Linked DNA regions of Homo sapiens: region 2 is linked to region 1. The links come from fine-mapping of genetic effects on gene expression. A gene starts in region 1. The other region holds a variant in brackets. All regions are shown on one strand. Distances are between the middles of the regions.

Region 1 (5,394 bases):
TTTGCCAATGAATTATGCATTTCTGTAGCGAGGCTTTGATATACTTGGGCTTGTGCAGGAGGTGGAGTGTAGAAATTCCTCCTGTACAGGGCTTGCATTGGCGGCAGCTGCTTTAAGAACCCAGAAACTTTTGTCCTCTCTGTAGGCTAGCTCACTGTGAAAATATCCCATGGATTTTACCTAAAATTGCTTACAGAGAGTGGCATTATACTTCTATAGATAACTGCATCAGTAACCAGAGAGGAGAAGTACAGCAGTAGACTACCCTCTACCCCCTGGTAGGAGTAGTAGCACATCACAGTTTCAGCATGTTCAATCTTGAGCAAAGAACATGATGTGATTGTTTCTGGGTATGTCTGTATATGGGGGGTGATTTTGTAGGGGAATTTATACATACAGTTTATTGCAGCAGGCACATAAAATACTTCCCAGAAGAAGATAATTCAGTGCATAATAAGAGCACCACATCTTTCCAGAACTTCAATCAACCACTGCTACACAAATAGGATTTGCTAAGCCACTCCTGAAAACTGTAGGACTAGAGTGCTTTCAAATGGTCTTTGCCGTGGGAGAAAACAGGCTACCTAAGCTGAATTATAGAAAGTAAAGAGATTCTGGAAGGTACCATCATCAGTTTTCTGGGAAGCATGTGAAGGACATGACTTGGAAGAATGGGTCCAGACTTTTGAGCACAAAGCCAGCAGCTCCACCCTGAAGACCATCATTTGGCTCATAAGTCCTGACTTCTGAAGCAAGTGATCTCCCTCCGTATGCATGCCATGTTGGCCATGCAGTTTCTATGAACTCCTCCATAGTGATGAGAAGTGAATGAGCCCCAACTGAAGCCATCATCTCATTTATGGGACAGGATCACACACAGGGTGGTGCTACTTTCTAGAGCCAAATCTCAAGTAAGGTGTCCAGGGGTCAGTTGCAACAGAAGGCACATTAGCCACAGCAGTCTCAGAGAACACTGCTAGAAGAAGAACCTACACATGGCCATGCAATGAGGCTGAGGGGCAGGCCTAAGTGGAAGCAGACCAAGTAAAGAGGTCAGAGAGCCCATGGAAGGAGAAGAGGGAAAGACAGTTCCAAGAGTAAAGCAGCCTAGGTTAAGGTGCAGAAAATTCAGCATGGATACTTTTAAGAGAGCTGTGCAAGGCTCTCCTTACCTAAAATCACACTCCGTATACAGACATACCCACAAACAATCACATCATGTTCTTTGCTCAAGATTGAACTTGCTGAAACTGTGATGTGCTACTACTCCTACCGGGGGTAGAGGGTAGTCTGCTGCTGTACTTCTCCTCTCTGGTTACTGATGCAATTATCTATAGAAGTATAATGCCGCTCTCTGTAAGCAATTTTAGGTAAAATCCATGGGATATTTTCACAGTGAGCTAGCCTACAGAGAGGGCAAAAGTTTCTGGGTTCTTAAAGCAGCTGCCGCCAATGCAAGCTCTGTACAGGAGGAATTTCTTTTTTTTTTTTCGTTTTATTATTATACTTTAAGTTTTAGGGTACATGTACACATTGTGCAGGTTAGTTACATATGTATACATGTGCCACGCTGGTGCGCTGCACCCACTAACTCGTCATCTAGCATTAGGTATATCTCCCAATGCTATCCCTCCCCCCTCCCCCCACCCCACAACAGTCCCCAGAGTGTGATGTTTCCCTACACTCCACCTCATGCACAAGCCCAAATATATCACAGCTTCTCTACAGAAATGCATAATTCACTGGCGAAGTTAATAGACATTGGCCAAGAGGATGATCTCCTCACTATGGAATCAGCTACAGTCTTAGGTAGCATGCAAACTCCAGTCTGACTCCAATCCCTTATATCTTCCATCGTAAAGTATTATTGCCAACTTTGTTTCTTTCCAATTTTTGTATGTTCTGCAGTTTATGTAAAGGCTAGCAAAAACATGAATACTTTATTATACATATGGCAAATAGTCTCAAATTGTAATGACTCATTTTTATCCTCTTATACTGTTGTAAAATTCAGAACAACATGTATTCACTATAGGAGTATGAAAATTCTTTTTACCAATGTACATTTTAAATAACATTGTGGTAAAGAGAAGCTACATATTTCACATTCTGATTCAACTCACTGTATCCAACGAGTAAAAGATCCTAGAAAGAATCTTACATTTCTAAAATTCTTATAGACTAAGAGTGAGCGATAGGAACAATAAAAATATTTCTGTAAGTGCTCTTGGTAAACAGTCTTAAAGTCAGAAGAACACTTATCCAAAATGCCCTACATTATTGTGCAATCAAAGTAGATAACTTTAACTTCAAAAACAACTCAGTCTTCCAACCCAATTCTTAAAACTCTAAGCTCTTCACAAAAAATTTTTAGCCAATTTAAACTTATTTCTACACTCAGTTATGTTTAAAACAACATAATGTTTGCATAATTTTTTAAAAAACATTCTAACTCAATGTTTTTATTTATCTAATATTAATTACCAGATATAAAATCTTTAAAGTAGCCCAATATTTTTCAAAATAATTTCTGCATAGATGATTGTCATTCAGTTTATAAAGGTTTATTTATAATTTTGTGATAGGAATAAGAAAAGACAAAACCTCTGAAACAAACTCACACACAAAAGCAAAATACAAAACAAAACAGAAAAAATACAGTGAACTTACTTCTGGGAAAATGGAAGCAAGGAATCTAGAGGTATGGTTTATCCACTGAGCTCCTTGTTTAGAAGAAAGTTATTCATATTTTCTCCTGGTCTCTACCATGTATCTAGAATTTGCTTTAACTATTTGACTTCTGTGAAAAGTTTCTGTGAAGACTGCTTTCAGAGTGGAGGTTATGATCTCAATTCTGTTGGCCCTGCCAAACATCACATTCACGTCATCATGCTTGGACTGTTTGTCTTCTCATTGATATTCGGCCAGTTCCTGCAGAGCAGTGGCATTTATACTGGGTTGCCTGGCTATATCATATTATAGGGAGCAATTTCTCTTTTACGTCCAAGATTATTGTGGCTAATACCAAAATTTAAAGTGCTGTCTTTAAGCCATGAGAAAGTAAACAGCTTAATCAGAGAAAAGCTCTTCTCTCTACCCAGAGCTCTAGTCTGCTTAATTGACAGCTTTACCTAGATAATCAAAATTTTCATTCCTCTGCTTCCCAGCTTCATTTTCACTCAGTTCAGACTATTTTCCAATTTATTTGACCCACGGATTAATCAGAAATGTGCTTAATTTCCAAGTGTCTGAAGATTTTCTTATCTTTTGGTTATTGATTTAATTTTAAATCAGAAGTTCAATTATACTCAGAAAAAATATTTTGTATGTCAAATTTGTTAAGGCTTATTTGATGACCCAGGATATGATCTATCTTGGCAGATATTCCATAGGCACTTGAAAAGTTGTATAGTTTTTTGGTGTTGAGTGGAATATTATATAATATCTATTACATTTAGTTGGTTGATGATATTGTTCAGTTTTTTCTATATTTTTCCTAATTTTCTGTCTCCTAGTTCTGTTGATTACTAAGAGAGGAATGTTGAAGATTTTAACAAAACTTAGGGACTTTCAAATTTCTCCCTTTAAAACTATCATGTTTTGCCTGATGTATTTTGCAACATTTGGAATTGTTATGTCTTCTTGGTGAATTGACCCTTTTATCATTATGTAATGTTAATCTTTATCTCTAGTAACTTTTGTGTTCTAAAGTCTACTTTGTTTCATATTAATAATATAGCCATTCTTACTTTCCTGTGATTATTGTTTTCGTGGTATTTTGTTTTCATCCGTTTATTTTTATCTACACACACACACACACACACACACACTATATGCTTTCAGAGTGGCAGTTATGATCTCAATTCTGTTGGCCCTGCCAAACATCACATTCATATTATATGTGTATGCGTGTGTGTGTATGTGTGTGTGTGCGTCTGTGTTTGTTATTATTTTTTTAAGATGATGGTCTTGCTATGTTGCCAAGGCTGGACTTGAACTCCTGGGTTCAAGTGATCTTCCCATCTCAGACTCCTGAGTAGCTGAAACTACAGATACATGCCACTATACCCAGCTCTAAATTGTATTTCAAGTGAGTTTCTTGTAGATGGCATATAATAGAGTCATGAGTTTGGTTTTTAAAATCCAATTTGACAATGCACATCTTTTAATGGGTGTGTTTAAATTATTTTCATTTTATGTAGCTATTGATTTTTAAAATCAGATCTGCCATTTTGTTATTTGCTTCTTTTCTCTCTGGTTTTAATTCTCCTATTTCCCATTTTCTGCTTTCTTGTTGGTTATTTGAAATTATTTTTTGGTATTGCATTTCAACGTATCTATTATGTTTCTTAACTGTATCTATTTGTATAGTTATTTTAGTGGTCACTCTCAGGATTACAAAAGACATACTTAACTTGACATGCTTTACCCAGAATTAATATTTCTTCATTTTAAGTGAAATATATAAACCTTACTATGATATACAGACAAAATAGGAAGGAGGTCAACAAGGGTGCTGCTCAGTAACTATATAACCAGAAGGGGAAGAAATAGAGGAGTAAGAGGCTCAACATGGTCTCCATCACCCCAATAAAAAGTCATGATCTCTTGCTCAGCTCCTAGTCCTAAGCTACTTTTCAGATACAGAACATATTGATTAAAAAACTAGTCAGACCCCTAGAAGAAAAGATCTTGCAACATCTTGACAAGTATATACTGTGGTGATTATACTTCCTAGTCCTCCCTCAAAGGGACCTAAAGCCATTATTTGGGTGATTATACACTGAAGAAAGAAAAATCCCCAGACATGTCAAGGGTTGTTGGGCATAAAGTCAGAGTGGACATTGATAACTGCAACCCACACTAAGGCCCTACAGCTAGATTGAGAATATAGAGCCAAGGTCGTAAATGGAGTTCCGGTTAACAAGCAGCTCTGCCTCGTCTCACTGGACTTATGGACATACCCAGTGGTGATTTTGCTGTCACCAAATGTGCTGTTAGAATTGACATATCTAGTAGTTAGAATAACTTCCATGCTGAGTCCTTGGCCTGTAGGGTAAAAACTATCATAATGCAGAAGGGAAAGTGGGCACCTTTGACAATTCTCCCAACTTTATCCCCAGCCATGACACTTAATCAAGAACAGTATTCCACATGGGGAGAAGAAATGCAGAGACCAATGCCACAAATAGTGACATAAGGATGAAAGGTAGTGGTGCCTAGCACACCTTAATTTAATTTGCCAGCCTGATCCTTGCAGAAGCCAGAAAGATTCTAGAGAATGCTTAGACTATCTCAAGCTCAAACAACTAGTGGTCCTAATTAGAGTTGCTTTGTCAGACATGGTATCTATTCCTAGAGCAGATACATGATTTTTAGCCAGCGATTAGTCAG
Region 2 (5,394 bases), 24 kb before region 1:
CAAATGAAATTGAAACATTAGGAGGAAGTAGGGAAGTATGGGAAGAGATGACATTTGAGATCGAACTTAGATGAACTTTTACCAAATAGGACACAGTCAAAAGGTGTGGTGATCCATGTAAATTGGCGGCATGAGGGAGAATTTCTGGGCAAAAGGCACTGCTGTGTTTAAGTAGAACCAGAAGTGGGCTTGTCTATGATGTTCAAGTTAATGAGCTCTTTATAATTAACAATCCTTTTGTTAAACACTAAATAATGGATATTTAATGGTTGACATTTCCATTTAGTTAGAGGGAAGGCAAGGGGAATTCAATAAGAATCACATAAACAGAAAAGACATTTTATGAATAGAAACATAATTTACTAATGAATTTTCCAGATGTTTTAAATTTTTAATTTAATTTGATTTAATGGTTTTTAATCACGTATTCTCTTCAATTACTAGGTAAAAACATGAACTGGAATAGTTATTTATAATTAGATTTGCCACATGTCCATATTTAATTAATAGCCTAAGAAAATACTTTATATTGCCTTTAAATAATTGTATGTTGATCCTCTTTTTTTCACTTTCCAAATGTCTTATTTTGCTGGGCTAAATAATTTCCAAGCTTTTAAAAGTTCTGTCTTTGCAACTTTACAACAGCCTTCGCTAGAATTTTAAGCCTTACAATGCTGAGTTTGTAAATGATTACAGCCTATGGATTCCAGAGGGACAGATGTTTCAGAAATGCCATTAATAGACATTCAGATGGCATCTCACCTGGGCCATTCCAAGCATGAAGGCAAAGGGACTAAGCAAGCTTAAAATCCACTCCAAGGATGCAGGAAGGTGTCTGTACAGTGATGTGAACCCCAGACACCCCCAAAAGACAGTGAGGAGGAACACGACCAGGCCGGTGAGGAAAGATTTCTTTACCAAGATGCTCATTAAGAAAGCCAAAGCTACCTAAAATGAGAGAAGATCTAGTTGGTTTATGTTTCTCTAACATTATTACTAGCATAATAAAATAGATATACAAAATTATAGTTATTTTGTGTATGTAACAGTTGTATATTATAGTTATTTTGTATATAACATACAAAACTATGCTCTGCAAATTGCACTAAAAATTGACATTACAAAACACCTCAAATCAAATTGTACCTGTTTATAGATTTTTCACATGCAAACAGAGTAGGTAGAAAAAAAAGGAGGCATACAGAGTAATCAGTCGGAAACAAACAATTTTTAGGCTATAGGTGGATGGAAAGATATTTAATTCACTAACTCACCAAAGATAATCCATACAGGAGAAAGAGGCTGAAGACTACCATGAAGCCAGACAAAATGATAAACTGGGTAGATCTTATAACAAGTGCCAAGAAAAGGGCCATAATGAAGATGAAACCAGCATAGAGCAAACCCCAGGAGAGCCTAATGTGGAAACAAAATGTTATTTTAGTATTTTATGTTCACTTGAAAAGGAAGACCTGAAATGGATTCTAAGATAACTCTTCATTCACTTATTCATCCATTCATTCTCTCTTTCAACATTTATTTATTGGGTGTTCTAAGATATATAAATACAAGGTAAAAGTTTTGGGCAGAATTCTTTAGAATTAGGAATATTCTTTGGGAATTAGGAATTGTTTTTCCTAAAATTGATTTCAGAAATACATTCACACACACATGCACATTGTTCTGGGGGGTGGGGGCGGTGGGGGGGGAATTAGGTTTCCAGTGTAATAGATTTTGGATCGAACATTTTATTTGCTGCATTCTTGCTCTGTAACCTTGGGCAACCTCTGTAACCCCTCTATTATTCCTTTATTTCTCTGGACACCAGGAATAATACTACCACTGAAGACTAAATAAGATGATGGCTATGTAGGGCACTGTCTTAATACAGGGTAGCCCCTCAGTGAACCTCAGACCCTTCTCTCCTCTCTGGAGTCTCTCCAAGTTCAGGACCATCACAAGCTTCCTCAGAGACAAGAAATTCTTCCTTATGTGTAATTTGGTCATGTCACTCCTTCCCCAAAAGCTGTTGTCATCTTTCTCTGGATGTGTTCACTGAAAAGTCTACATACTTGCCTTTAGTTCCGTTCATTGTTTTTGTTAAGAAAGATTTTTTTTGAATCCCATTCTTTTATGTCAGAATAATTCACTTTCCTTTCCTCATCAATTTCTTTTCTTTTGTTTTACAATATT[C/A]TTTGAAAACTATAATGAAATAATAATTTTAAAAAACAAAAACAAAACAGCTGCAAAGCCAACACAATAATAACTCACACACATAGCAATTAATATGCATTGAAGAAAACTTAGCAAACATTAAAGCATTTTATTCTCCCAATAGCCCTATTCAGAATACCATTATTTTCCTCATCTTATTGATAGAGAACCTAATGAACAAGGGTGTTATGTAACTATGTTTCAAGTTCAGGGGTTTTGGCTCTATAGTCTTTAGATTTCACTGCTCTGCTACGTTTCCCTCCAGTATTAATTCAAACAAGAGGTCAATATTGATGTATAAGATGTTAATACTGGAAGGAACTCTTCCAGACTCCTAATTTGTTGCCCTATGCACAGCCCATCTGCCTCCCTAGCCTCTCTGTTATTTAATGTCCTACTCCCTGTAAACATCACCTCCATGCTCTTTCAGTCAATTATTCATAAGTTCTCACACAGAACCTTGTCCATTCTTGGAATCACCCAACCTCTGACATTTTAAACCCACACTACCCAGCCCCTATTCACCATCCTGTTTTGCCAGCTCATTCCCTCAGGCACACCAAGCATGTTCCTCAGTCTCAAAGGAGTTCCTGGTCCTCGGCTTCTTTTTCCCTTTCAATCCCCTCCTAGCTCACATCTCACCTCTGTCTGGCACAGACACCATTGTCTATCTTGTTTACGCCTCTCTTGCCATGGCCATTCCTCATTACACCTTCTTCACAATCAACCAATAACCTAACCCCAATCTTCTTCCTTAACTCAGAGAAGCACAGTAAGACGCAGCCTCAGCCTGGCAAACATTACACCAATGACAGTTTATACCATTCATGGGGATAAAGGATTTTTATATTTCTTTCCTTGTTACTAAAGAATGTTTAAAAGTGGCATTTTCTTATTCATGGCAACACATTTTTTTAAATGGACATTGATGTGTGATAGTTGTGACATTATTTTTTCTGTAAAATTCTGCATTTGGCTCCTTATTTGTTTTCTCAAAGTTTTTTTATTTACTTTTTATGTTTCTTTAAAAGATTATCTTCCTCCTTTCTAAAAAAGTCAATATTATTCGTAATGGAAGTTGTATTTTCTTAAATGTTAGCACATTCTGTCCCCTTTTATCTTATTTCCTATAGCAGTTCCTTCACAGTACAGTGAATCTGAAATAGATTTAGATAAAATTGGGTCAGAGATTGTTAAATATATTAAATGACCAGCCTCTCTACTTAGTCCTGTAAAATTTCCAGAAGCAAAATACATTTCCTTTTTTTTTTTTTTTTTTTTTTTTTGTCCATCACTGCAGAGCATTTCTCCCCACTGAAATTAACTAAGTGGAAATTTGTTCATGATCTGAAATTATTCTGTGTAGGTATCTCTCATTTGTACCCCTTGGTTGTGGAGAAACAGGTTTTAATAAAGACGCATTGAAGAGGCCGGGCGTGGTGGCTCGCGCCTGTAATCCCAGCACTTTGGGAGGCCGAGGTGGGTGGATCACGAGGTCAGGAGATCGAGACCATCCTGGCTAACACGGTGAAACCCCGTCTCTACAGAAAATACAAAAAATTATCCAGGCATGGTGGTCGGCACCTGCAGTCCCAGCTACTTGGGAGGCCGAGGCAGGAGAATGGCGTGAACCTGTGAGGCGGAGCTTGCAGTGAGCTGAGATCACGCCACTGCACTCCAGCCTGGGCGACAGAGCGAGACTCCATTTCAAAAAAAAAAAGATGCATTGAAGATTCCCAGTTTTCCTGAGTTCCTCCGTTTATTTATTTGTGCTGCGTTTGACTCACCAGAACGCTGAATCCCGAAGACCCATCATTGTCATCAAGGCCTTCATCCTTTTCCTCTCTCTTGTGACATTAACAGATGCATAGTAAATGAATGAGGAAAATGAAATAATGCAGGAAAAAAGGTACAAATCAGTTATAACTCCTGATTGACCAATGAAGGAATGCATCTTCATATTTTTTCCAGTAACTGACATCAGCTCCTCCATCACTGAGTGATTTGTTGTGATCTGAAGAAAGGCATTAATAAGCAAAATTTGTACGTTAATGAACAGCATGCAGTTTTCTTTTAACCATCTATTTTCTTGTGGATGTATGATTGGCCTATTGGGATTTGATACTAACCTAAATTTCCACTTCTATGTCCTGTCATTGACCTGCTGGGACCTCGGAGTCCAGGCATTTTGAGTTACTCACCACTCTCAGAATTTACTGTGTGTTTCATTACCTCCCTGCCTAACATTACTTTATGATTTGCTTGGCATGGCTTTTCTCAATTTATATATTCAGTAAGCCACCCCTCATCTCAAGCTTCAAGCTGGAATGTTATTTCAATTAGGCATTCTTCCATGGCATTCTAAGGCTGAGAGGTTTTTACTCATTTACTTATGAGGACCTGATTTATAGTTCTGTAATAGTCTACTTCTGTTCTAATAATTTTCTTATATTCCTGGCTTCCCAACAAAGTTGAGTCCATGAATGAGATACTTTTTCTTCTGTTTGTATCTACATTCCGTGGTATATAGTAACTTCAGTAAACTTCAGAGTGAGCAAAGGAAATAACAAGGCTATCCACTTATATTTTCTTCCATGAAACTTTTGATGCCTCTAATATCATTAACTTGCATTAAACATTAGTTTGCTTTGAACATTTTGTACTCACTTCTATAATAGCAGCATTAATGGCAGCTTGAAGAGCCACAAAACCTTCCTTCCAAAATACTGAAACTTCACAGTAAACATCTTCATTTGTTTCATAACAATGAGCTTTGTGAAAAAACAAATCATAACTATCATTACATCACTATCTATATTATTGAAATATGATTTTAATACTGATTATAGCAAACAGTGGACTTTACAATGACCCCAAATTCCAAATGTTCTTATTTTGACTCAAAGCTTATGAAAACATAAATTATAACAATGATTCTCAAAATGAATCAGGCAGAATCATGAGGTGGAGCACTCTTAGGAAATGTTTTACATTAAATTATAACACTCTAAGCTTTCTCATACCGTGTCCTGTGCTTTTCTGCTGATGAAGAATTTTGTTGGTCTCTTCTCTTTTCTGATTTGTATTGTGAAAACTACATATTTTAATGTTTTTCAAAAGTTCACAGAGCCTAACATGGATTGAGAGACACTAAACTAAAGCTTTTTCTAACACTGGATA

Direction of the effects. Positions count from the first base shown, and alleles are read on the strand shown. Sizes are in standard deviations (SD) of each study's normalised expression.
In carriers of allele A in region 2, the expression in testis of the gene that starts at base 2,844 in region 1 tends to be lower than with C alone (small effect, 0.38 SD a copy in GTEx).

Evidence for each region. PIP is the estimated chance that this variant, and not a neighbour inherited with it, causes the effect.
Region 2: its variant is fine-mapped to the expression of ABCA8 in testis (GTEx, PIP 0.98).

Annotation. Positions count from the first base shown.
Region 1 is chr17:68,952,549-68,957,942 of GRCh38, forward strand. It overlaps ABCA8 (ATP binding cassette subfamily A member 8), which reads right to left and starts at 2,844. Exons shown (of 40, transcript NM_001288985.2): 1 at 2,671-2,844.
Region 2 is chr17:68,928,287-68,933,680 of GRCh38, forward strand. ABCA8 (ATP binding cassette subfamily A member 8) reads right to left here. Exons shown (of 40, transcript NM_001288985.2): 6 at 4,882-4,985; 7 at 4,002-4,228; 8 at 1,275-1,416; 9 at 763-948. Among named protein-coding and RNA genes, the nearest start is that of ABCA8, 24 kb to the right of the region's middle. The variant C/A (reference allele first, on the strand shown) is at 2,194.